Linked DNA regions of Homo sapiens. The protein of the gene in region 4 interacts with the protein of the main gene of each other region in a pairwise test. Each region holds a gene or a part of one and is shown on either strand. Other genes may lie near its edges.

What was found.
Region 1: the proteins of PTK7 (region 4) and ILKAP interact in a two-hybrid assay, tested with the Homo sapiens proteins (one study listed by BioGRID and IntAct).
Region 2: the proteins of PTK7 (region 4) and CDC14A interact in a two-hybrid assay, tested with the Homo sapiens proteins (one study listed by BioGRID and IntAct).
Region 3: the proteins of PTK7 (region 4) and MTMR10 interact in a two-hybrid assay, tested with the Homo sapiens proteins (one study listed by BioGRID and IntAct).

What each region holds. Positions count from the first base shown.
Region 1 is NC_000002.12:238,200,143-238,208,558, forward strand, and holds the start of ILKAP (integrin-linked kinase-associated serine/threonine phosphatase 2C), read right to left. Parts: upstream 3,554-8,416; 5' UTR 3,412-3,553; coding exon 3,357-3,411; intron 1-3,356. UniProt on the Homo sapiens protein: Protein phosphatase that may play a role in regulation of cell cycle progression via dephosphorylation of its substrates whose appropriate phosphorylation states might be crucial for cell proliferation.
Region 2 is NC_000001.11:100,515,725-100,521,416, reverse strand, and holds the end of CDC14A (dual specificity protein phosphatase CDC14A), read right to left. Parts: intron 3,167-5,692; coding exon 3,137-3,166; 3' UTR 1,140-3,136; downstream 1-1,139. UniProt on the Homo sapiens protein: Dual-specificity phosphatase. Required for centrosome separation and productive cytokinesis during cell division. Dephosphorylates SIRT2 around early anaphase.
Region 3 is NC_000015.10:30,946,629-30,953,628, forward strand, and holds part of MTMR10 (myotubularin-related protein 10), read right to left. Parts: coding exon 6,934-7,000; intron 5,411-6,933; coding exon 5,340-5,410; intron 1,844-5,339; coding exon 1,674-1,843; intron 673-1,673; coding exon 502-672; intron 152-501; coding exon of another isoform or gene 98-151; exon of another isoform or gene 1-97.
Region 4 is NC_000006.12:43,134,511-43,142,930, reverse strand, and holds part of PTK7 (inactive tyrosine-protein kinase 7 isoform a precursor), read right to left. Parts: intron 4,083-8,420; coding exon 3,949-4,082; intron 3,796-3,948; coding exon 3,660-3,795; intron 3,526-3,659; coding exon 3,406-3,525; intron 1,264-3,405; coding exon 1,114-1,263; intron 1,001-1,113; coding exon 850-1,000; intron 760-849; coding exon 632-759; intron 1-631. UniProt on the Homo sapiens protein: Inactive tyrosine kinase involved in Wnt signaling pathway. Component of both the non-canonical (also known as the Wnt/planar cell polarity signaling) and the canonical Wnt signaling pathway.

The DNA.
Region 1 (8,416 bases), on a different chromosome or scaffold from region 4:
CGGCACTTTTATGGGTATGACATAGGAAAGTTCCATTTCTGCCTGATATGAACAAACACTTTTTTTTAGGTAAAATATATACATCTCTCCTTTAAAAAACTTGATTCATTCAGCAATTAAAACTTTTAAGGGCTTGGATGAAAACTACTAATTTAGCAAAATACCTGAAATATTTAGTGCATTCTATGTATTTTTCTAGATTATAAACATTTAAGAGGTTTAGGGGTGGGAACATTAGATGCAACGTTTAAAACAAAAATAAAAAGATCTAAACAAAATATTAATACATTTGATGTGATATAAGCAGTGTAGTATTCTCCCTTTGGACACTCAGTGCTTTCCCATAATTCATTTAAGACTGCGTTTTTCCACTTTTAAACAACTGTTAATGGCTCAGCCAGGCACAGTGGCTTACCACTGTAATCCCAGCACTCTGGGAGGGCCAAGGTGGGCAGAACACTTGAGCCCCAGGAGTTCGAGAGCAGCCTGGGCAACATGGCAAAGCCTTGTCTCTACAAAACATACAAAAATTAGCTGGCTGTGGTGGTGCGCACCTGTAGTCCCAGCTACCAAGGAGGCTGAGGTGGAAGAATCACCTGTGCCCACGGAGGTCGAGACTGCAGTGAGCTGTGTTTATGTCACTGCACTCCAGCCTGGGCGACACAATGAGGCTGTCTCAAAAATAATAACCCTGGCTAACATCTATAAAACACTATACATTCTACCCCACACTATGTGCAGCACCATACATACTGTACTAATTTGTACAGTAACAGTGGCAAGTGTCACCCCTTTTTACACATGTAGGAATAGCCACAGAAGGCACAGTTAGTAAGCGAAGAGCTGGATTCTAAACCAAGTAGTCTGGTTACACTTTCTGAACAACTTTTCTTGCGCTCTGGGAAAATAACGAGGTCTTTTATTGTTCACTGCATTAGAGATTTGTGGTACCCACATATCATGTGTGAGGGTCATGATGCACAGTTTAGACTCATTATTCCATTCACTTTAGCAATCAATATGATTTATTCAAAGTATGTTTTTTTTTTTTAAATCACAGTATTTTCACAAGTATGTGAAACCAGATTCTGTTCTTGTACAAACGATTTTAACCTGTCAAATCTCATCTTGTTGGTTGTAGCTAACAGCCTGCAATGATAACTATGGATCCCAATTGTCACTCATTTTAGTACTTATCCCTCTCAGCTTCCAATCATCTACAAATTCTGAGATCTTCTTCGTTTTAAAGCTATTTTTAAAAATACACTCAGCCAAGCAGGACCTGTTGACAATGTCAGTGCCCTCCTGGCAGATGGGGAGCAGCTGACCAATCCAATCTCAGGGTGGTCAGCAGTTTAAACACCATGCACCCCCTCTGCCACCCTTTCAGCTCAGTCAAGGTTGGAAACTGAGTTTGGAAAAAACGGCAACAGGATGTACCTTTCCCACTGTATCTGGCAAAAGGCTGCTAAGGTGCCAACCTATGAGATTCTGAGTTGCCAGGTTTTTTGTCAGTCAAGGGAGCCTGCTCCTGAGCAGAACCTAATTAATTGCAGGTAAAAAGCAATGGAGATTTTAAGACTCATAGGTTTACACGCACACTGGTGAATCCAAATGCTGTCCCAAATATATTCAGATAGAAATTATACTCCATTGACAAGAGAAAAAAGACTGCTACACAAATCCAATTTTTACCCACAGCTAAAACCGTGGTTATTTTGAAAATGAATGGCTGAGTCAAGTTCAAAGACTCCAGGACCAGTTACTGAGATGCTCTGTACCATCAGAACGGTCAGTGGGGGCAGGGCACGGTGGCTCACACCTGTAATCCCAGCAATTTGGGAGGCCGAGGCGGGCGGATCACCTGAGGTCAGGAGTTCAAGACCACCCTACCCAACATGGTGAAACCCCGTCTCTACTAAAAATATAAAAATTAGCCGGGTGTGGTGGTCGGCGCCTGTAATCTCAGCTAGTAGGGAGGCCTAGGCAGGAGAATTGTTTGAACCCGGAGGTTGCAGTGAGCTCAGATCTCACCATTGCACTCCAGCCTGGGCGACAAGAGTGAGACTCCGTCTCAAAAAGTAAAATAAAATAAAATGTTTTCTCGCCCAGAATTACTGCAAATCACAAGCCTGAACATCCTTGGAAGCTCAATTCAAACACTGCCTCCTTCCCCAGTCTCTCGGTGCCCGACAATCCCTCCTCAAGAGTCCTCAGCATTTCCCACAGTCATTAACTTTTGCCAGTTTTAATTACCGTAATTAGTACCCTTCAGAAAGCAGCTCTTAGAAAGCGAAGGCTGGGCCTTACTCACCTCCGTCTACCCTACAACAGCAGCTCCCAAACCACTGGTCTCCAGCCCCCGCTGGGTTGGCCTGGGGATTTAGTAACAGATTCGGAAACCCCACTCTCAGGGATTCGGATTTACTGGGGCTGAGGTGGGCCTGGAAATCTGAACGTCTTAAGTTTTCCAGGTTTTCTGCCCCCAAGTTAAATTTTGTAATAAGGCCCTAAACTACAACATCAAGCTGGAAGTCTTGCATATGAAATATTCACGCGTTTTGACAGATGAAACCCGGAGACTGTAACCCACAGGACGCAGGGATTAACACAGGCCCTGTTTCAAGCTGCTAGGATGCTGAGCTCAAACCACAGCCCACAGGGACTCCCACTGGCAGGGGCCAGCGCTTAGGAGATGAGCGGACCCCTTAACTTCAAGGAGAGGGGGAACTTCCCGTGGACCAGAAAAAAAAAAAAAAAACTACTGTTAATTATCACAAAATCACAGGATGACAGAGGAGGCATCCTGTCTTCCAGGCTTCAAAAACACGAAGGATTAAGATGGTGATTAATTCAATCTCCAGTGCAAATAAAAACGCCAAGCCCCTGAACTTGCACCGGCCCGGAACGCGGCCGTTCCACAGCCCGCGGGTGAAGTGCGGCCCGGAAGCCGCGGGCGGGCGACGCGCAAGGCAGCCCAGGCCGCGGGTGGAATCGGGGCGCGGGGGCCCGCGGTGCCGCCGGGCGTTCAGAGCCGGTCCCTCGGGTCGGCCCACGCGGTCGCGCCGGCGCCTTTCACCGCCACGCAGAGGGGCCGTGGCCACGACGGCTCGGCCCTTTCCTTCCTGCGTAGCGAAAATGGCGGAGCGGCCTCTCCGAGCTCCGCGAGCGACCGGGCCTCCGACAGGGCCGCCAGTGGGCCGGACGGGGCCTGGCCAGGCAGGAGCAGGCCCCGTGCAGCCCGCGCCGCCCGCCGCCTCCCAGCGCGGGCGCCGCCTCAGCCGCCCCGGGCCTCAGGCCGCCCCCATCCCGCCTGCTCTCCCTTCCCTGGCCGGCCCGGCGGCAACGCCGCTTACCGGCAGCCGGGCGCGGCGAGCGCTCGGGCTCCGGCAGGTCCCCGAAGAGGTCCATGGCGGAGGCTGGGTGGAGGCGGCAGCAGCGACAGACACTCAGCCCGCGAGCAGCGGCCGGGCTCCACACCCCGGGCGGGCGGCAGCAGCGGGCGGGCGACGGGCAGGGGCGGCCGGCGCCGTCAGTCACCTGCAGGGAGAGTCCCGGACGCCACCAATCGGCGCGCGGCGTGGCCCGGCCGCCCCAGAGGGCTGCGCGCGGGCTGGGCGGGGCGGCTGGGGGCGGGGCGGTGCGCATGCGCGTGGGCCCCTCCCGCGCCCCGACTGCGAGCCGGGCGGACGGCGCCGTCTGGGCCCCGCGGTGTTTCCCGCCTTGGCGAACCCCGGGCCCCTCCTGCTTTTCCTTGGCTGGGGGTGTCCGATTTCTGTCAAGTTTCGTTGAGTTCCTGTCCAAGAAGCCCTGTCCAGAGAGAAACGTCTGAGCTCAAGGGCAGCCCCTGATGCCTGGGAAGGCTTTCTGGAGCTCTTGCCATCTCTTCGGCTCGTCCTTTCACCACGGCGTGCCTGGTTTCTGGCCTGTTTTAGAGACTGAGAAACCGAGGCTTGGATGGAGCGGCCCTGGGCGTCAGGACGGAAACCTCAAAAGATGCCGGAGGGAAAGGAGGCATTCCCTGACTTGTCTGCACCCACTGGTGTCTGTGGGGAGCGGAGAAGAGGGGCTCCTCCTTAATGGTGTCCCCCTCCATGCCTGTAAAGAGAAAGGCGGCCACTGACATCGGGGAGCTGGCCTGGTTCTGCAGCCAGGACTTGGGGTTGGTCTGGCACAAACAGCTAGGCCTGGGTGTTCTCTTTGAATGTGAACAATTTCATAAAACACCAACATCAGGCCGTGATACAGATCAAGAGAAAAAAACAGACCACTGTGTAATCAAGTGTGAACACAGACAAAACAGGAACACTGTCCAAGCCACAAAAGTGACCACATTCCCCTCGTCTTGGCCAATAAGAGTGATTGCTGCTTCTTTACCATTACATGTTTAGCCTTTGTCTCGTCCTCCTGCCGTCTAGATAAGCTTCATCAAGATATCCAATCATGGAATCCTCCTCTTCCTGACATCCAATCCGGAGCAAAGGCCCGTTTCCATAAATGTTTCCCCAAATCAACTAACACAAACCCAAATCTTACACCTCCGTTCCAACATCGTTTACCCAAGTTCCCCAGGTTATGTGGTCTCCCTCCATGCAAAGAGTTTTCAGCCCAGTTCATTCTGGGGCAGATGTATTTCTGACGCTCTCTGGCTGTAGGACATGGAGGGAGCCCAACAAGGCTTCATGCCTCTCATCTGCGTGGCTTCTCACTAGCAACCGTTTGAGATATTCATGCTGCCTCCTCCATTACAGCAGAAACACTCAAGTAACAATGCTTGTAACCGTTAAAGAAAGAGGAAATAAATACAAAAAGCGGCTCAACATTAAAAGGTTTATTTCAGAGAATAAACCTGAGAGGGGATTCTGGCCAATTTCGATCAGGAGCGCTCTCTCTTACAGACTAAGCATTCTCTCTTACAGACTAAGGATATTTAAGGGTTTTGGAAGTGGGGGAACGTTTATTGCAGGGTTGGAATGTCTCTGGTCGGAGGGGAGGCTATTGGAGGAGAGGTTATTTCAGGGTTAGCATGTTTCTGGTTGAAGAGAGGTTTATCTTAGGGTTGGAATATTTCTGGTTATGCTGACATTAGCCGTTAGGCTGATGTTTTGGGGTAGGATTTAGGTGGTTTTTTAATCAAGGGGAACTTAGAAAGGTGGTGTTTGTCCAAGATGGCAATGCTCCTGCTCTATCAATCCAGTCTCTATAGTTATGAAAAGGACAAGGGGCAGCGCATTTTTTCTGGCTACTTCCTGCTGGGGGAGTGAGCAGAGAGTTCTTTGGTTTCAGATTGATTGTAGGAGTAACGCTGTCTGTAGATGTTTTTGGGTAATTGTCTGTGAGATGGCCATGATCCTGCTGGTTAAAAATCTTTGAAAAAGGTGGCCAGGCGCGGTGGCTCACGCGTGTAATCCCAGCACTTTGGGAGGCCAAGGCGGGTGGGTCACGAGGTCAGGAGATCGAGACCATCCTGGCTAACATGGTGAAACCCCGTCTCTACTAAAAATACAAAAAAAAAAAAAAAATAGCCAGGCATGGTGGCGGGTGCCTGTAGTCCCAGCTACTTGGGAGGCTGAGGCAGGAGAATGGTGTGAACCCAGGAGGCGGAGCTTGCAGTGAGCCGAGATCTCGCCACTGCACTCCAGCCTGGGCGACTGAGCAAGACTCCGTCTCAAAAAAATAAAAAAAACTTAGAAAAAGGTTAATTAAGCAGGGTAAGAACATTATTCCTAGGCATATTTTTAGGAGAGAGCCCAGGAATGGGATGACCCATATTAGGACTTTGTTTTTAAACCAGTAATTTATTTGGTTGTCTTGTTATTCTCTTAGCTTTTTAGCCCTTTCTTTAAGTTTTTTAGCAGCGTCTCTTACTAGGCCCAACTGATTGAGATAGAAGCAACATTTTTTACCGAATGAGAGGCAGAGGTCCCCTCTTTCAGTTGTTATAACATCTAATTCCTGTCTATTTTGGAGGACTACTCCAGCCAAGGAGTCTACTCCAGCCAAGGAGTCTAGTTGGCCTTGGACTCTTATAAGGCTTTGGGCCATATGCTCTAATGAACTCTGCAGTTCTGTTGAAAGAGATTTCAAGTATGTTAAGCAGGTGGCGAATCAGCCTGCTCCCAACCCAAGCCCGGAGGTTATACCTAAGGCAGCCATTAAAGGAATGACGTGGATGGCTCTCCTCTTCCTAACATATTGGATGGATGGAACGGGTAAAGATTGATTAGGAGGAACTAGTCCAATGGAGGGAGAAAGATAAACTAGGGTACAGGTTCTGGTCTGGTTGATGGGGAGACAAAGAAATATGTGTTGAGACCACACAAAAAGAACAAGCCTTTATTGTAAATACAAGCAGAGATATGGACAGAAAATAAGTGAATTAAAGATGAGGTGTTTGTTCTTTCCTGTGGTTCATTACTCCAGGTGGACAAGGAGGAGGCCTGGGAGACACCTACTATACTAGAGGTATAGGAAGAGTTATTTTTTACAGATTTAATGCGGTCGGATGCTGCACTATTGATATTGAGCCAAGGAAAATTGTGGGCACTAGGAGCAGCACAGGTTAGGCTGGAGGCATTGGCTGAGGGAAAGGCTGTCAAACGAGCCAGCTGCAGAAATGCTCCGTTCGCTTCAGGTGATACTTGGTAGTTAGCCTGGTTAGTTTGATGGTCAGAGGGGTGTTTAACAATGATAGTGTGGTTGCATAGGTTAGATGTTAAGGACCCTACAGGGAAATTTCCCTCCGAGGCTGAAAAGCAAAGTGAGGCTCATTATAAGAGGAGGAGTGTGTTTAGTTATGGGCCCTTCAATGGGAGGGCCGTGGGGCTTAAGGCGCTGTAGGGAGTTATCCTAGGTTTGAAATAATTTGTTGGCCTGATCGGCCCTGGAAGTGGGATAATCACCGACTAGAGTGTCAGCTCTTTCAAAAAAGGAAGCTCCTTTTTGGAGTTTATAAATTAGGGTTGTGTTTCCTGTTAAAAGGTCATGAAGGAATGTAGGAAGGGCTGTGTAAGCTAAGGAAGACAGCGATAAACACACCCAGCATTCCAGAGCAAAGGAAGAGTTAGCTTGCCGCAAGAGAGATTGTGTAAGGTTTATAGAGCGTTCTAGTTTGAGAGCAGTGAGGAGTGGTTGTATTGATGAGGTTGATGTGATTAGGGAATTTATATTGAAAGAAACAAGCAAAAAGCGAAAAAAGTTATTTGGGTAGGAGTAAAGTCCTGGAAAGTTCCTTGAAGCCATAGGTCCCATAGAGCAGTAACGAGCTGATCAGGATGTATAATGGGAGCTTCCTAAGGGCACCACTGAAGGTCTGTAACAAGGTTAGTTAGGAAGTGATGAAAGTTTGGGAGAGAAAGAGACATAAGCGGCTTATGTGGATTTCTCCTCCTTTTCCTCAGGGATTTGGGTGAGGCGAAGAGAAGTGGGTCCTGGGAGACACGAGAGAAGGCCGAAGGGGTTTCAGACTTGGTTGTTTGGGTATGTGGTGAAGGGAAGTCTGTTTTCTTGAGAGAAGTACAATGAAACCAGCTGGGGAGTCCCTGGAGTTTCGGTGCTGTGGGTGTGGTAAGGATGATCTGGTAAGGTCCCTTCCACTTAGGTGTGAAGCAGGAATTGAGGGTAGGACTGGGGTATTTTACCAGAACCCAGTCTCCTGGCTGTAGGGAGGGATTAAAGGAGTCGGTGATGGGTTGTGGCAGGTATTTGTCAGCATATTCCTAAATGAAATGGCAGATGGTATGTACAAGAGGGGAAATGAGAGGGATTGGTGGAGGTGGGGCTTGACCCTGAGGTGGAGCAGAGGGGCAAATGGTCTCCCATACATGAGTTCAAAGGTGCTGAGCGTTAGAAGTTTACATTGGAGCACCCGAATTTTTAGAAGGGCTAAAGGCAAAAGTGTAACCCAGTCTTTATGTGTTTGGTGTGAGTACCTGGTGAGGGTGTTTTTGTAGAATGCCATTCATTTCTTCAACCTTTCCTGAAGATTGAGGTCGAGAGGGGAGGTGCAACTTCCAGGTGATTTGTAGGGCTTGTGCAAGTGTTTGAATAATTTGAGAAATGAATTCAGGGCCATTATCAGATTGAAAAGAAAGAGGCACCCCGAACCTGGGGATGATTTCTGTTATTAATTTGGAGAGTAGGAGCTCGTTTGTTGGTTGTGGGAAAGGCCTCGACCCGTACCAAAAAGGTATCAACCAGAACTAAAAGAAATCAAACCCTTTTTACTGGGGGCATGTGGGTAAAACCAATTTGCCAGTCCTGTTCTGGAAGGTGTCCCTTGGATTGATGGGTTAGAAAAGAAGAGGGTCTAGTGTTGAAGTGGGGTGAAGCTTTTTTGCAAACAGAGCATTGATGGGAAATGGCTTTTAACTGTTCCTTTATGTCTGGGGTTATGTATATATGGGAACTTAAGAAA
Region 2 (5,692 bases), on a different chromosome or scaffold from region 4:
GCAAAGGGGACTCTGCCTTATGACTTTTGGAACGAGTACAGACTTCTTATATGACATGAAGCCCACGGAGTCCTGTTCAGCTTATATACTAACAACTGGTTTAATTAGACTCAACATATTAATGGTTTAACATGTCACTGAAGAAAGCATAGAAGTAAAAACAATTTTCAAAATACATTTGTGTATAGTTGGTAAATTCATGTTCCTGCTATATTTGAATCACATAGATAGTTTTCCCAGGTGTGTTTTGAGATTTATAAATCATTTTACATCTAAGGATAAAAAAGAAACAGGTAAACTCAATAGGTGAGAAATCTGCTGAAACCAGCTAATTGATTTGTTTTTTTTACTTTCTTTTTCATAAAAACCCAATCTGTACAAAAAAAGATTTCCTTCTGCCCTGTGAAACAGGTTCATTAATTCATAAGAAATCTCCTTCTTTAAGATGTGGTCCTATGAAAACCTTGGTACCCCAATTGTTTCATGCAGTGTTGTTAGGACAGCTATTTGCAGATCCCAATTCCAAATGTAAAACTACCTTCTCACCCACAAACTTTCCTTTGCATTCTAAAAAAAAAAAAAAAAAAAATTTAAGGAAAAAAAAACCTCAGAATCATCATAACCCAAAGAGATCCAGTTTACTATATAAAATATCTCCAATAAATAGTGTAGCTTCTTCCTCCCAAACTGACTTTTCAGGGCATAGATCCAACAGGTGTGAGGTTTCTTCTAACTGATTTCTATAATTTCTCATTTAGGAAAAATGGCATTCTTTTTCAAAAGGAACTGGTGATCAATCACACAATAGTCATCAGTAGTCATAAATGACTAAGCAGGACCCAAAACACTGATCAGGATCAGTATTTTATTGACAGTAAAAAAAATAAAGGGAAAGCAAGCAAGAACCTAACATTATATGATTTTTGTGAAATTCAAAGTATAAGGTTTCTGTGAGCTCACTGTCATGTATTTCAGGCAATGGCCACAACCTAGAAAGTCAATAAAAGCTAAACTAAAATCCAGAATAGAGATCTTGAAACACTCAAGGCACTGACCACACTGAACCAAAAATAAAATTATAAAGAGACTTCAGTACATTGATAACTCAAAAATTCAAATTATAAACACCAAAAAATAAGTAAATTGAATAAAACTTTTATTATTTATTAGCAGTGTATTCTTCTACACTTTAAAATAGAGCAAAATATCTTTTGGAAGATAAACTATTCATAACAAAATACATGTCAAACAATTTTTATTATCAGAGTAAAATTACTTTGCTATATACTTTCTATATTATATACATCCACTTCTTGGTGTGTCTATGTAGGCACATGTGTAAAGTAATTTTTAGACATATACATGTACATACATATGACACATATACACACATAATTATGGGAAATTTACAGTAGTCAACTTTACAATCATTTTAATAGCTTCACACAAATTAGTGTTCACAGAACTAAAACTGTCAACATGATTCCCTTTCCCCTACTTCTCAAATGTCATCTGAATTACTTTTTATGATAACTTGAAAAAAATACTGTCATCTTCCTATACAATTAACCAATTTTTATAATAACTCATAATAAAATATTTTACTTTTTTAACTTTAGAAAAGATACATAATTCCACTTATTTTAGTTTTTGATTCCTAAATCATACAATTCGTTTTTTTCATCAGTTGAGTGTAATTTTTGGTACTGCAGTTACTGAAGGTTAATTTAACAAACCTGAGTCAAACATTCATTCAAATGCCTTTTTTAAAAACATAAAACATGAACAAGATGTTTTGATGAAGCATATATAATAGACTCAAGGTACCCTCCCCTAATAAATACATTATAAATAACTCAATGGTTGGGAGTAAAGCACTTCATATGAATCCATTTAACTAGCACTTTCAGTGTCGAAGCAGTCCATTCTTAAGCAGCCTGGAAGGATATCAGGATGTAACGCTCCTCGATTCCTCATAGAAATGAAACCTACAGGCTTCTGAAGACCTAAATATCAGATCATACTTACATGAAAGGGCTGTGAGTACCTATAAGGGTCCTTTCATTTTCATAGTAGGTTCCAGATATGCTAGCGTGTGCAGCAGGGGGTTGTACCCTGTTTTAAAAATATCTCCTTTAATACAGAGAACTACTTAGCAGCATCTTTTTCAGTTTTTTCTCTCCATTGATTTAAAACTGATGTCAAACCATGTGTGATTACAGGCAACAACAACCTCATACCCAAAGCAGGATATCCTAATTGGGTTAAGAACTCTTTTGAAAGGAGGAAGGAAAAAAAAACATTTGGAATATTGAGTCATTTCATAGAGAAAAACCATGAAACCATGCTCTCAGAAGAAATATTCAGTGAATTCTGATCTTTCACTGCATGCTGTATTTTAAAGCCCCCCAGGATGCAAAACTAACTCAAATTGGCTCAGCAACAAAAACAATAGGAAAGGGAATTGTCCTAAATAAGCCATCCCATGCCATTATACTCTTGGTAGAGATAAACTTGGATAAACTCAGTGTAACTAAACTGACTTCCCAAAAGAATGAACTGACCTGCCATATTTATAGTGCGAGCATAAAAATCACTTTCTAAAAACTTTCTCCCTTACTTCTTCTTAATAAGAAGGAATTATTTATTCATTAGAGACAAAACCATACTAAAACTAAACAGATTTAAAATACAAATTTTTGGTAGCAAACAGCAGGAAAATCTAAATCAAAATATAGTGTAGTTTTTACATAATTTTATATATTTATAAATTTATCAAAATAGTCTTTTAAAGTTCACAATACATATATAATGTAACACTGTACATGTAAATATAATAATAAATGTATTACCAAAATACATTAAAAATAACCCTTCAAAATACCAAATTCAACATTAAAACTGTCTTTAAAAGTATGGAAATCTCCATAAACATAGTTTCAGTGCATTTATAGTAGTCATTAACCAGTTTTCTGTTTTCAAGTCTCTTGAAGGTGTTATCTTAGTGCTCTTTTTAATTTAAGGTAAGAAGGCAGAGATATTCTTCCAGCAAGAAGTTGCTTTCCCTCTCCACTGCTCGTCCAGATGAAGAAATTGTGTCTAAGAGAAGAACAGCTTTCACTGGAGTGGCAAGGCCTTAGTAATGAACATATTCAGACTGAAGGGACTGTGCAGGGAGAGACATAAACTGAGGTTAAATTCCATCACATGTAAAACTTCTAGCAAGTCATGCAGCTTCTCCCTTCCACACAAGACAGCTTAGAGATCAATGAAATAAACTAAGCCAAAACAGAAACAAAAAGACAGGAGACACAAAGCATTAGCTAGGTAAGAATGAGATATTCAATTACGCAAAGTGATTGTAAGAAAACTTTATATTTTAAAAGGTTTACTAATTTATTTATAGTGATTAAAAAATTAAGTTTTAATTTAAAAATCGGTAGGTAGCCTAAACTCATCTCTAAGCATTTCTACAATTAATGAGTTTTACTTAACAATATTAAAAGATACTTTTAACTAATTAAAGATTACTAGAATATACTTTGAGATGATATATCCTTAAATTTAATTCAGTACATATCAATGGCATGCTTCTAATGCAGTAGAATTAGCAGCCATTTAAATAAATTCCTTAAGCATGCTTGAATTTATAAATATCTTACACATCCTTTCCCTTAAGGGGAAATGAAGTACTACCAGCTTGAAATCTGATCTTAAGACCCAAAAACATTTATGCAGAAGAGTCTTGCTGTCGGAATTTAATAAACAATAGGCAATTTTCAAGTAAACCATACAAATTCTTCCACATCACATTAGATACTAACATATAAAAGGATTGTGATTGGGATATGTAATCAGAATGCCTGGGACAACAGACATAAACCAGGAAAAGATAGAGAGTTACAGAAAGTTTGCCAAACAGTTATTTTTTTTAGCAGGAAACAGTGATTAGAAAAAGGAACATAAATCAATCTAAACATTAACAAATTTTTTGCTCAATTCTTCCAATTAAATACCTGAGGATAACAAAGTTTACTTGATTTTCTAGTAAATGCCCTTTTCTCCCACCCAATAATTATTTCTCAAATTAGTCTGTAACATTTCATTAACAGGTCTAGTCAATTATAAGACAGGTCCATTTTGGTGATGATATAGGTTATCAGTAAAAAAGAATCTGTCCATTTTCCAAAGAACTTACAAAAGGATTCAAGCTATCTTTTCTCAGCTTCAAAACTGCAGTGAATTTTACACCCCATGAACAGCCAAATGGCTGTTCCTGAGTAAGTCCCTGTTAACACAGTATGTCAAAGAGTTATGGTCCCTGACCGCAAAGGGCGAAAGCCACAATGTCATAACAGATGTGAAATGAAAAGACAGCGGTGTCGACATTAAATAGTAATATACATAGTGTAAAGTTAACATCGTGCACCAGGAAAGGCTTAGGTGAGAGGTAGTAAGGGAAATGGGTGGTTCTCAAGGCTGCCAGTTTCAAGAGCTGTAGGAAGAATGGAAAAGGTTTGGCTATTGACTTTCTTGTATGTGGTTCATGCTAATACTTCAAAATAGGTGTGAGATGATCAAGAATCAGAGCACTATACTATAAATATACCTGAACCCACAGTGCGAATAAAAGAGGTAAGACCCTAAGAAAGTCCAGTGAAGTTGGTCAAAAGCCTTGAAGCCCATATACATTCCACTTGAGGGACGCCAGCTACCACACTCGCAATTAGAGCATAAACATTTTTCTACCTGCTTTTTCTCGGTTTCTTCTAAGTCTGGCAAGCAGTCAGAGGGCAGAGCCAGTTAAGTCCCCCAGCTATAAGAATGCCACAAAGGTATGTTGTGCGTGTATGTGTGTGTGTGTAGCTCAGCTAGTGCTTTCTTGAGAATATTTAACTTTTACTTTTGTTCCGATTAGTAAAGTTGTGCATGTTATCACTAACAGAAATCAGAAATTCTTCAAACTGCATATAACTTAGAACAAAGTTGTTTTTGCAAGCTCCATCAATTATCAATAAACAGAGATGTAGCAAATAAACATTAGACAAGCGACCTTTGTTAAACCAACTTTTTTATAGGGTAAAGTATTTCATATGTACATCAATATAGAGGGGCAAATATGTGTGTGTGCATATATTTATATATATAAACACACACATATATATATTCATTTATTTACATATTTATTTAGTGAATCACAGTACCCAGTGAACTGGAAAACAGAAATAGTCTAGAACATTTTAAAGATTTCTATTATTCATATGGAGAATATATTCATTAGTCTTCTATCCAAAGCCTTTACTTCCACAGAGCTCAAAAACTCTGGCTGGTGTTTAATCTAGGCTCAGATACAGCTCACCACAAGCCCCACTATTTCCTTTTCCAACCCCCTAGTTTGCTCTCTTATGTTGCCTAACTGGCCCTGCAGGCCTCTGCAAACAAATGATGACACCATTTGGCCAACGAATTGACCTTCTGTCCCACCAGTTCAATTCATTCAACAAATAATTACTGAACATAAGTTGTATCTATTAAGCACTAGAGGATAAAAATACAATACCAAAGTCCTCAAAACAAAACATGTTCCATGGTTTCTTTATATGGTATAAAGGAAAGTGAAATGAAAGATCAGTAAAAAGGGTTCAGCAAATTATTCTGACATCAGTATTTTGTAACAAATTAACTTCCTTTC
Region 3 (7,000 bases), on a different chromosome or scaffold from region 4:
GGGTGAAATGGCACTTTGGTTCAGAATGGTTTCAAGTTTGGCTTGAGACCCTGCTTAGTCATAAATCCTCTACATCAATGAATTGTGACCAGAAACTTCAAACTCGTGAAGGAAAATAATCTTGTTTTGTACAACTTTTTATCCTACTGACCTAGGAAATAAATGTCGTGTAACAGGGCTTTTGTTTTTTACTACCCAATAGCCCAAATGTGAAATATAAATACAAAAGCATGACATTTAAGGTGGTTAAAGTAATTTACATCTTTAAAGGGGTTTACTACAAAACATTTACATTAGAGTAAAACAAAAAATGTTCATTCATAAAAATAATTTCCTAGATTTTTGTGTCTTCAAAATAATCCATTCAGAAATTTCAGCTGAAAATGGCAGTAAGAATTTTAAATCATAAGATTTTAAATAGGCAGTGAATTATACTTCAATTATGCCTCGATAAAGTTGTAAAAACAGGGAAAACGTAGCCACAGCCACAGGGTTGCTTACCGTGCTTTGCTTCACTCGCTGGTGAGGGGAGTTGAACAGGAAGGTGCCAAACAGTGAGATCCGGGTGCTGTCATACAACACTGCCAGGTAGGTTTCGGAGAACTCAAAAGCTGCAGGATATTGTTCTAACAGCTGCCAGGTGGCATCCAAGAATAGCAAAAATAAAGGAGACTGGCAAATACAAAGAGACAATGGGATCATTTAATGTTATCCTTCAGCCGTTCACATTTACTTCAAAATGTACTGCTGATGTTAAAGAAGAGATGAATGAGAAAACATCGAAGCCTAAAACACTTGCCTTCTAAGCTGAGCTATACACATCTATCAAACCCAAGAAGTAACATTCAACCGTGATAAACATCACAACCCTTATTTGCCCAGTACATGTAACAAGTTGAAACAGCAAAGCACACAGTTGAGCGGGTTGCCACTATATGAAGGGGGAAGAGCAAAATATGTGTTTAAGCATGTCTTAGAAACAATTCTTTAGATTATATAACAAAACAAAACCATCAACCAAACTTCTCTAATGTTTGGTTGATCCTGTAGGCTCAGCATCCAGAAAACATCCCCATATTTCAGAAAACACTTTGGGATGAGCCTAGGTCACGTGGTGTGTCCCCAAGTGCAGTAGCGGGTGACCACTATTTTTTATGAGACACCACAAGTCAAATGGCGCTCTCTGAAACAACCTTCTAAAAACTGATCTGACTGACCTGCCTGGCCGGTAAGATATTTGTAAGGCCTTCCGCAGCCTAACTAGAGATCCGAGGCAGCCACTAACTCCACAGCTGTTGCAAAGGTGGCCCTCTCAAACTTTTCATCTTAACCTATGTATCCCATTTTAAGAAAATATGATATTCCAAAAGTGATTTTTCAAAATAGCCAATGTGCTTGTTATCTGTTTTTCAGTATTTTATTCAGAATTTTTTCAGTAGTTTTCCACTTAGACAAATTCAATAGACAACTTTTAAAAATTTCACCTTCATAGTTACGATAATCTTTATAATAAGTACATCAATTTGAACTCTAATCCATTAGTTAGCTTTGGACTAAGGAAATTAAGTTGTACTAAATACAGTATTTTTTAAAAGCCCCTTCATCTTTTAATGACACAAATTTTATTTTGTGTATCCTTAAAGACTGATAAAAAGGCATCAAGATTTTGTTACCTCTTTCTCTGATCTCTTTAGATGGTTGCATCTGTCTAGAAACTGATATCCTGCCATGACCCACTCCTTCTGTATCAGACTCTGAAATCCAGTAATTGTCCTAAAATAGGGATCCAGCATCACTTGAACAAGAGAAGCTACACAACAGCTCAAGTCTCTTCCTTCCTCCTCTGTTAATAAAATGGAAAGAAAATGATTACAACATAGAAAAATGCTGAGAGAGAAAGGGAAGGAAAGGTAAACTAGATAATTTAGTATTCTGCACACCTAGGCTGCCTTCCAAATCTGTATAAGGAAATTTTACTGGATTCCAGCAACTCTAAAATATTACAGACTTGTAGATAAACTAAATTAGCATTTAATAGGAGATGGTCTTTTATACATGGATATTTGCCAGATAATAGAAGCTCATCACTCATACTTTTTACATTCGAATGGTTTGTGGTAGAAAATCCGTCTAGACTCCATTCTACTGCTCTTTTGTCAAGGTATTAAGTATAAGGTAATCTTTCTACTGACAGGCCACATGGCAATACTGAGAAGTGAATGGGGAGAGTGGGACTGTTCACTACCAACTGAAGCTGTGGCAAACGATTCCCTCCTGTCTTTTATAGTTGTTGTCCTTTCCAATAAGGCCAGAATTGCCACGCTATCAAAGTCAGCCAGGGAAATCAGAAGACAACTATTGACCAATATCCCTTATGATTACAGATGTAAAAATCAATAAAAATATGAGTAAACCAAATTATCCAGGAATGCAAAGTTGGTTTAACATCTGTCAATTGTAGTAACGTACCACAGTAATAAAGGACAAAACCAACACGATTATCTCATTAGATGCGGAAAAAGCATCTGATACAATTCTACCTTCATTCCTGATTAGGAATAAAAGTAAACATATTTAAACTGATCAGAGACATCCACAAAAACCTACAATTAATGTTATTCCCATTTCACTGGTGAAAGACTGGATACTCTCTCCCTAAGATCAGGAAGATGATAAGGATGTCTGTTCTCTACACTTCTCCATCTCATTGAACTGGAGAATCTAGCCAGAGCAATTAGGCAAGAAAAAGAAAATAAAAGGCATTCAGATCAGAAAGAAAAAGGTAAAAACTGTCTTTGAAGACAATATGATCCTGTATGTAAAAACTCCTACGGAATCCACAAAATAACTACTAGAATTAATAAATGAGGTCAGTAAGGTTACAGAAATTCTGTACACAACAATCTGAGTACATAGTAAACCTGAAAATGAAATTAACAATTATATTCACAGTGACATAAAAATAAAATACTTAAGAGATTTAACAAAATAAATATAAGACTTACATAATAAAACACTGCTGATAAAATGAAAGATCTAAATAAATGAAGCAGCATAATTCATAACAGCCACAAAGTGGAAACAACCCAAATGTCCATCAACAGGTAAATGGGTAAGCAAAATGCATTTACAAACAGTGGAATACAATTCAGAAATAAAAAGGAAAAGATTGCTGATACACACTACATGAATGAACCTCAAAAACATGTATGTTGAATGAAAGAAGCCAGCGGCAAAAGGCCACATATTGTATGATTCCATTTATATGAAATGCCCAGAAAGGGAAAATCTAGAGACAGAAAGATTAGTGGCTGCCTGGAGCTGGGACTTTTGGGGTGATGAAAAATTTCCAAAACTAGACTCTGTATATTTACTAAAATTTACTGAATTACAAATTAAAAATGGGTGAATTCCATAGTATGTAAATTTTTAACAAACTGTTTAAAAATAAACGTATATAAAAATGCTAGTAAAATGAAGGTTCAGTGCTACTTCTGAGGCCTTTTCTATTACAAATGCATGGAGAAATGGAGGATGAGTAGGGTTCTCCAATACGATGAGAACACCCACTGGATGAGAGAAATTGTGATTATTAGGCTCTGCATGCATTTGTGAGTTAAACACACACTCTGACTGTATCAGTTCAGGATTACTTTATATGACACATTACTATTTGATTTTTTTCTAAGAGTCTTAAAGATTTTTGCCTTGTTAAAGTCAATCAAGTTTGGCAGTTGTTAAATGTACTTCTGCAAGCCTGGCCAGGCACGGTGGCTCACGCCTATAATCCTAGCACTTTGGGAGGCTGAGGTGGGCAGACCACCTGAGGGCAGGAGTTCGAGAGCAGCCTGGCCAACAAGGTGAAACCCCATCTCTAGTAAAAATACAAAAATTAGCCGGGCGTGGTGGTGCATGCTTGTAATCCCAGCTACTTGGGAGGCTGAAGCAGGAGAATCGCTTGAACCCAGGAGGTGGAGGTTGCAGTGAGCTGAGATCGTTCCACTGCACTCCAGCCTAGGTGACAGGAGCGAAACTCCATCTCAAAAAAAAAAAAAGTACTTCTGCAAGCTTAAGCAACATTTTGTATTCATATACTATGCAACATGAGTATATAGTCTTCCCTCAGTATCCATGGGGAACTCATTCCAGGGCCTCCTTTGGATACCAAGATCCACAAATGCTTAAGTCCTGGATATAAAATGATGTTAATATTTGCATATAACCTATGCACATCCTCCTGTACACTTTAAGTTACCTCTAGATTACTTATAACACCTAATACAATGTAAATGCTATGTAAACAGTTGTTATACTATACTGTTTAGAGAATAATGACAACAAAAAAAAAGTCTGTTCATGTTCATTACGGCCAAAGCTTTCCCCCGCCAATATTTTCAGTCCTGGGTTGGTTGACCACAGATGGGGAAGCCATGGGTACAAAGGACCTACTACTGTATTATACGAAGGTAGTTTTTAGTCTATTGAACTTTATCTGCAAACTTACAAATTCTATTAGCTGTAAGTTATTTAATATGTAATTATCCTTTGCTTAACTGAAAGATTTTTACATCACCGTTTATTCCTACCAAATATTACATTACTAGCTATTCAGCAGTTCAGTCTAAATTTCTTCATCTCAAACTGCTTCCTTAGAGTCATAATCTAGCATGAGCCAGAAGGTATTTAAACTAAAACAAATTTGTACAAATTAGACAGCAAAATTACAGAGAGAGAATGCCCTGTCAAAATTAACACTAAGTATTAATCCATTAGGGGATGGGACCCACCCTTCCCATAAAATAGGAAGGATAATTTAATAAAGGGTAAAAACTGGACTACTTTCTATTCTTCTATTTGCAGTCCTTGTGCCACTGGTTTTTATTTATTTTTTTTTTGAGTCTTGCTGTGTTGCCCAGGCTGGAGTGCAGTGGTGCGATCTCTGCTCACTGCAACCTCCGCCTCCTAGGTTCAAGTGATACTCCTGCCTCGGCCTCCCGAGTAGCTGAGACTACAGGCGCACACCACCACTCCTGACTAATTTTTGTATTTTTAGTAGAGACAAGGTTTCACCACGTTGGCCAGGCTGATCTCAAACTTCTGACCTCAAGTGATCCGCCCGCCTCGACCTCCCAAAGTCTGGGATTACAGGCTTCAGCCACTGCGCCCAGCCTGTGCCACTGTTTTACTCAAATGATGTGCAAAATCTGTAATGTATTTGATGGTACTGTAGTAAATAAGAAATAGCTAAAACTGATGTGATTTACTTGAATGGGGACAAGCAGTAAACCAAGGCTGGCTGGTATGGTGGTCATGGTGCTTTCAGGAGTTACTTTAGTTACCTTGTAGGACTACAGAGAGATGTTTGCTTTCTAGCATGTATACAAGTTCTGCTGAATGCTTAAGGAATGCCCTGAAGAGAGAAAAGGAAAAGCAGTGTTAAAAATCAAATTTCCACTACAAATACATAAAGTACTTGAAATCAAGCAAATCTAATTTCTCACTTTACAGATGCTCTCTGATCATGATATTCCCATAACTCATGACCCATGATAACCCACTGTAAGCTGAAAATACCCTAAACTGAGACTGTGTGGCTGACTGGCAGCTGTGGCTCCCTGCTGCTACTCAGCATCACAAGAGAGGATTGACTGCTTTCTACTGAATGCACATAGCTTTCGCATTACCGTAAAGTTTCTTTAGTTACTTATACGATTTCTCAAAGGAGTATATTTTGTAATTTTTGTTTTCTTTTTAAGAGACAGGCTCTCATTTTGTCACCCACACTAGAGTGCAGTGGCATATCACAGCTCATTGTAACCCTGAACTCCTGGCCTCAAGTGATCCTCCTGCCTCCACCTCCTGAGCAGCTAGGACCACAGGCACGAGCCACCATGCCTGCCTAGTTTTAAAATTTTTTTGTGGAGATGGGCATCTCACTATGTTCCTCGGCTGGTTGTGAACTCCTGGCCTCAAGTGATCCTCCTGCCTCAGGCTCCCTAGGACAGCAGGCACATGCCACCATGCCTGGCTAGTTTCCAACTTTTTTGTGGAGATGGGGTCTCACTGTGTTGCTCAGGCTGGTTGTGAACTACTGGCCTCAAGTGATCTTCCTCCCCAGAGCTTTGGAATTACTGGCATGAGCTACCACAACCGGCCCCACTTTGTAAATTTTTTTTTTTGAGATGGAGACTTGCTCTATCACCCAGGCTGCAGTGCAGTGGCGTGATCTTGACTCAATGCAACCTCTGCCTCCCAGGTTCAAGTGATTCTCCTGCCTCAGCCTCCTGAGTAGCTGGGACTACAGGTGCGTGCCACCATGCTTGGCTAATTTTTGTATTTTTAGCAGAGACAAGGTTTCACCATGTTGGCCAGGCTGGTCTTGAACTCCTGACCTCAGGTGAGCCACCCGCCTTGGCCTCCCAAAGTGCTGGGATTACAGGCATGAGCCACCACGCCTGGCCTCATTTTGTACTTTTTCATCAGGGAAATTCATAAACCCTTTATGAAAAGGAAGGGGTTGACTTATGACAAAACTATAGAGATTGAGAAGAGATTAGTGGTAGTCAACAGACACAGATGGCGATGAGGGTGCACCTATAAGAAGGCTAGCACAGGGGAGCCTTGTCATGGAACAGGTCTGTATCTCCCTGTGGTGGTGGTTACGTGAACCTACACACGTGATAAAATCGCACAGCTGTGTTAAGGGCATGCACACAGACGACAGCATGTATGAACTGGTGAGTAAGAGCTATCCAGTGTCCCAGTGTCAGCTTCCTGGTTTGGATGCTGTACTCTAGTTACGAGATGTTACTATTGGGGGAAGTTGGATGAAGAGTAAGTACATGGCCCTCTGTGCTATTTTTGTACCTCCAGTGAGTCTGTAGTTATCTCAAAATAAAAAGTTAAAGGAAAAGAAAGTAAAGAAGTACAAACCTTACATATTCTAACCATCGAGTATTTTCCAGTGAAGATAACCATTTCTCTTCAGTTTCTTCAAAAG
Region 4 (8,420 bases):
GAAGGGAGACCATGCAGGATCCCCCAACTGCCACACACACCCCAGTGGCTCCCACCAAGGGGGCCTCCTCAGTTCATTTTCATCCATTTAAACTTTCACATTATACTTTGTCTAGAAAAATAACTCTGCTGCCAAACCAAGAAAGTTTAAGAGCTTCTCATTTAAACCACTTTCACCTGTGGATGCAGAAACAAGTCCCCAGAGGAGAAATAAGTCTCCCAGGGGCAGAGAGTTAAGTGCAGGGCCTTTTACCTGACCCATCATCCTCTCTGGGCCTCCTGGAGAAAAGAACCTTGTCCTACTGCATTCTGACCTGGTCCTCCTCCCCAGCCACCCAGAGATATGTGTGGCTGCTGCAGGAACCTGGGAGGCAGCATTGTAGGAAGAGAACACCCCCCCACTCCCCCACAACACACACACACACACACCGACCGTTGGATGTTAAATAAACGACAGCCCGGCTCTGAGCAAGGACTCTAAGACTGTGCAGCAGCATGGTGAGACGGCCGAATCCCCACCGCTGCCACAAAAATGGCTTCTGTGCCATGTTCTGTACACAGGGGCTGAGTACAAGGTGACAAACGTCTGGGCCCACCACTTCCTGTGCAGCATAACCCTCCCCAGCCCATACCCACGACATAGAGGGGGGCCTCCGTGTGCTTGATGTTGCAGCTGTTGCCTGCAATGCAGGTGTAGCGGCCTGAGTCCTCAGGGGCCACGTCATGGATCACCAGGGAGCCATTCTGGAAGATGTGCATCCTGTCGGGGGAGAAGCCATAGTGCTGGCCAGCTCGCAGGGAGGGGGGCTGCAGGAGAGGAGGGACGGGTGTGGGAGAGAGGTGGCCCTACCTGGGTCCCAGCTTGGTGGGGTCCAGGATGCGGTCCTTGCCTTTCCACTGAATCAGCGGCTTGGGGTCCCCCTGGGCCTCGCACTGCAGTAGGGCTGTGTGGCCCTGGTACACAGTCGTACGCTCTGGTTCCACTTTGAAGGTGATAAAAACTGGAAGAAAAGAGACCAGCGAGGCGCAGGGAGGGGTAAGCCAAGGGGCTGGCAGGGTACACGGTGCTACCCCAGAGGGCCCTCCCAGCCCCAGGGCCCTGCCACGGTCGCACCTGCCACAGTGAGCTGGACATGGGCACGAATCTGGCCCTGCGGCCCGTTGGAGGCAATGCAAGTGTAGTTGCCAGCGTCATCTCGAGTCACCCGGGCAAAATGCAGGGTCCCAGCGTTGTCTGTCACCCACTCTGGGAGGCTGCTCCCATCTGCAGGGGTAACAAAGGGAAATTATGGGAAGGATCAGGGTTACACAGACAGCTGGCAATGCCTTCAGTCCCTCACCTCTACTCAAAAACACACCATCGCTCCTGACCACCCACAGGCAAAGTCCAAACTCCTGAGCCAAGTGTTAGAAGCCCCTCCGTTATTTACCCCTCTTCCAATTCTTCAGTCTCACCTCTTCCTCCTACTGCCCTGTGTGACATTCCACGTCTGCCAAACCGGACTCTGTTTGGGCCCAGATCGGCCCTGTTCCTACTCCGCTGCCCATCACTTCTCCCTCCTAGAGCCCATTCCCGCTCTTTACCATCCCAGGCTGTAGATCCATTTTAAGCCTCACCTCTCCCAGAAAGTTCCCCCAGACCTGAGCAGAGGGAGCCTACTTCCTCCTCAGAATCTACAACTGTACTCTCTCACTCTAGGTGGAAATGTCAAAATTGGTCCAACCTTTTAAAAAATAATTTGGCAACTCACATCAAGGGCTATAAAAATGTTCATACCCCCTTTCGTGCATAATTATCCCAATTCTGGGAATCTTTCCCAAAGGAAATAAACCTAAATCCAGAAAAAAACTTTGGCTTAAAGATGTTTATTGCAGCAATGAAAAAAAAGGGGGTGGGTGGGTGGCTGGTTAACAACCCAAATCTCCAACATTTAAGGAACAGTTAAGTAAATTACAGTGAATCCAATTGTTGAAATATTATTAGGATCATCAAAACAAATATTCATGAAGAGTGTATAAAGATGTGGGGAAATGCTTGACAATGGTAAGTAAAAAAGGGTATAAAATTACACCGTTACAAAAAAAATAAAAATAAATAATTTTAAAAAATATTTTTAAAAACTACATAGTTATCTGTATTGTCTAATTCTACAATAAGCATGTCTACAGGCATGCACCACCATGCCTGGCTAATTTTTAAATTTTTTGTACAGACAGGGTCTCCCTGTATTGCCCAGGTTGGTCTTGAACTCCTGGGCTCAAGCGATCCTCCCACCTCGGCCTCCCAAAGTGCTGGGATTACAGGCATGAGCTACCACACTCAGCCAATCATGTAAATTTAATAACTGAAACTATATATACAATAAAACTGCTAGGTAAAAAAAGAAAAACATATGCACAGAAAAAGAAGACATACACCCAAAGATGATAAACGGCAGGACTGTACATTTTTTCTCCCAATATTTTTTTTTTTTTTTTTGAGATGGAGTCTCGCTCTGCCACCCAGGCTGAAGTGCAGTGGCACAATCTCGGCTCACTGCCACCTCCGCCTCCTGGGTTCAAACAATTCTCCTACCTCAGCCTCCCGAGTAGCTGGCACTACAGATGCGTGCCGCCACCCCTGGCTAATTTTTTGTATTTTCAGTAGAGACGAGGTTTCACTACTCTATGTTAGCCAGGATGGTCTCTATCTCATGACCTCGTGATCCACCCACCTCAGCTTCCCACAGTGCTGGGATTACAGGCGTGAGCCACCACGCCCGGCCTCTTCCAGTATTTTGTAAAGGAGCCCATGTAACTTTTGTTTCTTTTTTCTTTTGAGTCAGAGTCTCACTCTGTCAGCCAGACTCTGGTGCAATGGCATGATCTCGGCCCACTGCAGCCTCCACCTCCTGGGTTCAAGCGATTCTCCTGCTTCAGCCTCCTAAGCAGCTGGGATTGCAAGCATGTGCCACCACGCCTGGCTAACTTTTGCATTTTTAGTAGAGATGGGGTTTCACCATGTTGGCCAGGCTGGTCTCAAACTCCTGGCCTCAAGTGACCCACCCATCTCGGCTTCCCAAAGTGTTGGGATTACAGGCGTGAGCCACTATGCACGGCCTCCATGTAATTTTTATGTTGGAAAAGATAAACTATTTTGGAAAAGGGGAAGAGAGGACTTTACAGCACTGTCTGAACCAATCCAATCACTTGTTGCCTTGAGTTGTCTTCCATGTTGTCCAAGGCTATAATCTGACCTCTTCTGTGTCTGGCTTTTTCCTTCCTAACTAAACTATACATCAGCCCTGCACTGCTTGTCTAATCTCCACATTTCCTGGCACAGTGCGGGGCACCCAGCAGCCCTCAGGTATGTATCTGATCAGTGAACTGCCTGCCTGCCCCTACCCTATGCCGGCACTGTACCCACCTGCCCGTTCCCACTTAATAGTGGGCTTCTCTCGGCCTGTGGCTGAACAGGGCACCGTGGCCTCCTTGTCAAACTCCATGCACTGCTGTGGCTGGGGTGGTGGTGTGAACTTGAGCTTTTCTGTTTCAGCAGAGGGTGGGTAGAAAGACGAGGAATTGGGGCCGCTGGAGAGGCCGTGGCCAGGCCTGCTGCTCCCTCCCCTTTCCTCTCCTGCCTAGCCAGGAAGGGTGCTCCCCCAAGACATGCTGGCTCACCCAGCACTTGGACACGGGCTTGCGCCTCGATGCTGCCGGCTGGGGTGCTGCTCATACAACGGTACCATGTCCCATCATACACCTCCACGCTGTTGATGCGCAAGGTCCCATTCTTGAAGACCTCGAACCGTGAGTCCTGCAGCACAGGTGAGAGGCCTCAGAGCCTGAACCCACACCCACCTCTCCCTGGAGGCTGCCTCCAGGGTAAGAGTGCTATGGAGGTGAGCACAGAAGAGGGCAAGTGGAGGGAAGGCCCCGCCCATCCACTAGCAACACTCTTCTTTCTCACCTCTGAGATGAGCATCTGGTTTCTGTACCAGACAACTGTAGGTTTTGGTGTGGCCTGGGTCAGGCAATCCAAGTAGCCGGGTTTGCCCTCCTCCAGCTGGCTGTCTTGGGGCTTCTTCAGCCAGGAGGGCACAGCTAGACAGACAGGAAGGAAACAGTGAAGGCTGCTTCACAGGTCTCCAAAACTAAAGGATCCATCTCCAAGAAATCCTACTACCATTCTAGGCCCTGAGTTCAGAAGCCCCATGCTCCTCAGATGGCAGGAGTTTCCCTTTACGGAAGACCCAGGTGCCAGCACCTTTTTTAAAATTTTTTTTCTTTTAAGACAGGTTCTCACTCTGTCACCCAGGCTGGAGTAGAGTGACACAATTATGGCTCACTACAGTCTCGAACTCATAGGCTCAAGTGATTTTTCCCACCTCAGCCTCCCAAATAGCTGGGACCACAGGCATGCACCACAATACTTGGCTAATTTTTTTATTTTCTGTAGTGATGGGGTCTTGCTATGTTGCCCAGGCTGGTCTCAAACTCCTGGCTTCAAGCCTCCCCAAGTGCTAAGATTACAGGCATGAGCCACCACGCCCGGCCACCAGCACCTTTTGAACATTATCTTAGTTAACTGTCACATTAATTAACTTAGTTAACATTATCTTAGTTATAAGCCCCTATGGTAGGCAGGGAGTGGTGGCTCACACCTGTAATCCCAGCACTTTGGGAGGCCGAGGCGGGAGGGCTGCTGTAAGACACTGCACTCTAGCCTAGGCAACAGAGTGAAACCCCCATCTCTAAAAAAACAAAAAAAACAAACCCCCCAAGGTATGTATTCCAACACGCACTTTACAGCTAAGAAAACAGATGTTCAAAGAAGTAATGGTGGCCAGGCACAGTGGCTCACGCCTGTAATCCCAGCACTTTAAGAGGCAAAGGCGGGCAGATCATTTGAGGTCAGGAGTTCAAAACCAGTCTGGCCAACATAGTGAAACCCCGTCTCTACTAAAAATACAAAAACATTGGCCGGGTGTGGTGGCGGGCACCTGTAATCCCAGCTACTGGGGAGGCTGAGGCACAAGAATCGCTTGAACCTGGGAGGTGGAGGTTGCAGTGAGCCGAGATCACGCCACTGCACTCCAGCCTGGGCGAAAGAGTGAGACTCCATCTCAAATAAAAGATAAAAAATAATAATAACAATAATAAAAAAAGAAGAAGTAATGGTGATTTGCTAATACCTAATAGTGACAGAATTTAAAACTCTGGTCTATATGACTCTGAAACCCTTGTTCTTCTTATTACACCATAAAATGCCAAGGCGCAGTCCTCAGAAATCTGTTCTGTTTTAGCAACACTCACTCATCCAGTCCACAACCTTCAATACAACATGAATGGTTGGTTCCCAAAACTACATCCTGATTCCTATAAATCCAATTGCCTACTGGCATTTCCAACTGGATATCCAACAGGCATCTCAAACTTTACGTGTGCTAAAGAGAACACCTGACTTCCCCCAAAACCTGCTCACTCATTTTCCCTATCTCAGTCAATAGAACTATCTAGTCAGTTAAGAAAGCCAAAAAGCTAGCCTTGTCTTCTCTCTATACCCCACCCCCATCACACTCGTTCTACCAAACCCTATCTACTGGGGCTCCTAAATATATCCTGAATTTGACCACCTCTCACCCCCACCGCTACTGCCTCTGTTCAAGCTCCTTCAGTATCTCCCCTAGACTATTATAGTCATCTACTTAGTATGGGTCTCCTTGTTTATACTCTTGGCCCTAACATTCTAGTCTCAAAACAGCCAGAGCGATCTTCTGAAAAATCAGTCTTCCACTCAAAACCCTGCAAGACCTTCCCATCCAATGTGGTGTGGTAGGCTGCTTGCAATGATAGTTATAAACAATCCTCCCATCCCTTTCAACTCTTTTCAATGTGATGTTGACACTTTCCCATCAAGAGGTAGAGTTTATTTCTTTTTGTGTGTGTGAGACAGGGTCTCATCCTGTTACCTAGGCTGGAGTGCAGTCACGCCACTATGGCTTACTGCAGCCTCAGCGTCCCAGGCTCAAGCAACCCTCTCACCTCAGCCTCCAAAGTGGCTAGGACCACAGGCGCGTACCACCAGGCCCAGCTAATTTTTTTTTTATTTTTAGTAGAGACGGGGTCTGGCCATGTGGTCCAGGCTGGTCTCAAACTCCTAGGCTCAAGCAGTCCTCCCACCTTGGCCTCCTAAAATACTGGGATTGCAGCGTGAGCCACTGAACTGGGTCATGGTGTATTTTTCTAGTCCCTGGAATCTGAGTGGCCTGTGACTTCCCTTGTCCAACAGAACACAGTGGTAGTACTGCAGCTTCCACTTTTGCCCTCTCGGAACCCAGCTGCCAGGTGAGGAAGCCTGGCTAGCCTACTGGAGATGCCATGTGGAGGAGAACTAAGGCACCCTGGTCAATAGCCCCAGTCAACTGCCAGACAGGTGAGTGTGGCCGCCAGGGACCAGGCCAGCTCACCCATCAGCTGACTGCAAACGTGTACACCCAGCCGATAGCACACCAGGTAGACGAGCGGGCCCACCTGAACCTGTCCACAGAATCATAAGCATGTCAACGGCTGTTGTTTGTTGTTTCAAGTCACTACGGTTTGGTTTTTTTTTTTTTTGAGTTGGAGTCTTGCTCTGTCACCCAGGCTGGAGTGCAGTGGCGCGATCTCTGTTCACTGCAACCTCCACCTCCCAGGTTCAAGCGATTCTCCTGCCTCAGCCTCCCAAGTAGCTGGGATTACAGGCATGTGCCACCATGCCTGGATAATTTTTTTTTTTGTATTTTTTATTTTATTTTGAGATAGAGTCTCGCTCTGTCGCCCAGGCTGGAGTGCAGTGGCGCAATCTCGGCTCACTGCAACCTCCGCCTCCTGAGTAGCTGGGATTACAGGCACATGCCACCACACCTGGCTAATTTTTGTATTTTTAGTAGAGACGGGGTTTCAGCACGTTGGTCAGGCTGGTCTCGAATTCCTGACCTCGTGATCCACCTGCCTCGGCCTCCCAAAGTGCTGGGATTACAAGGCGTGAGCCACTGCACCCAGCCATTTTTGTATTTTTAGTAGAGATGGGGTTTCACCATGTTGGCCAGGCTGGTCTCAAACTCCTGACCTCAAGTGATCCACCTGCCTCGGCCTCCCAAAGTGCCACCACGTTTTGAAGTGGTTTGCTATGTAGCAATGGATAACTGATGCCGAAGCCAAAGTCCTTACTATGCTTTTACAAGGCCTATGGGATTTAGTTTCCACCTCTCAGGCAACTTCAACCCCTCTCACCATCGTTTATTCAACTCAAGCCACACAGGCGACTACTGTTCCTCCAACATACAAGCCCATTTCCATCTCAGGGCCTATCACATGGCTGGCTCCCTTCTTAATTTAAATACCAACTCCAATGCACCTTTTACAGAAGTCTTCCCTAAACTCTCACTGGCCCTGCCCTTTCTCTATCACTTGCCCTATTTCATTGTTCTCCCTTGTTCTACTGGCACCTAAAATTATATTTGTTCATTTGATAGTTTTTCTTACTGGCTTTGTCCCCGCTGTTAGAATATGAACTCCACAAGGAGAGGGGCTTCTGCCTGCTTTGTTCACAGTTGCATCCAGTACTGGGAAGAGCTAGCACAAGGTGCTCGACAAATCTCTGTTGACTGAATGCATTCCCAGAGCTCTCCGTCTTCTGGGCTCTACCCTCTAACACCCAGCACCTGATCTGGCCCTGTTTGCATCACACACTCTCAAATGCCACAGGCCTCCTTCTCAGAGCACAGCAAGGGACACTGGCATGGCTCAGTGTCAGCCTCAGTCAGCATCTGTGGAATGACTGATCAAAGCCAGAGTTCCCCAACTTGAACACACATGAAGTATCACCCAGAGCACTTGTTAAATACACATCTACCTGGGTCCCACCCCTAGAGCCTGGGTTGGAAGCTGTGGAGTGGGGCCCCGAATTCTGCATTTTTTTTCTTTTTTTCAAGGCTCCAGCAATGTCTTAGACATTTTTTTGGAGACAGGGTCTTGCTGTCATCCAGGCTCCAGTACAGTAGTGTGATCATAGCTCACTGGAACCTCCAGCTCCCGAGCTCAAATGATCCTCCAGCCTCAGCCTCCCAAATAGTTGGGATTATAGGTGTGCATCACCATACCTGGCTAAATTTTTTTTTTTTTTTTTCCTGAGACAAAGTCTCGCTCTGTCACCCAGGCTGGAGTGCAATGGCACGATCTCGACTCACTGCAACCTCTGCCTCCTGGATTCAAGCAATTCTCCTGCCCCAGCCTCCCAAGTAGCTGGGATTACAGGTGAGTGCCAACATGCCCAGCTAATTTTTGTATTTTTAGTAGAGACGGGGTTTCACCATGTTGGTCAGGCTGATCTCGAACTCCTGACCTCGTGATCCACCCACCTCGGCCTCCCAAAGTGCTGGGATTACAAGCGTGAGCCAC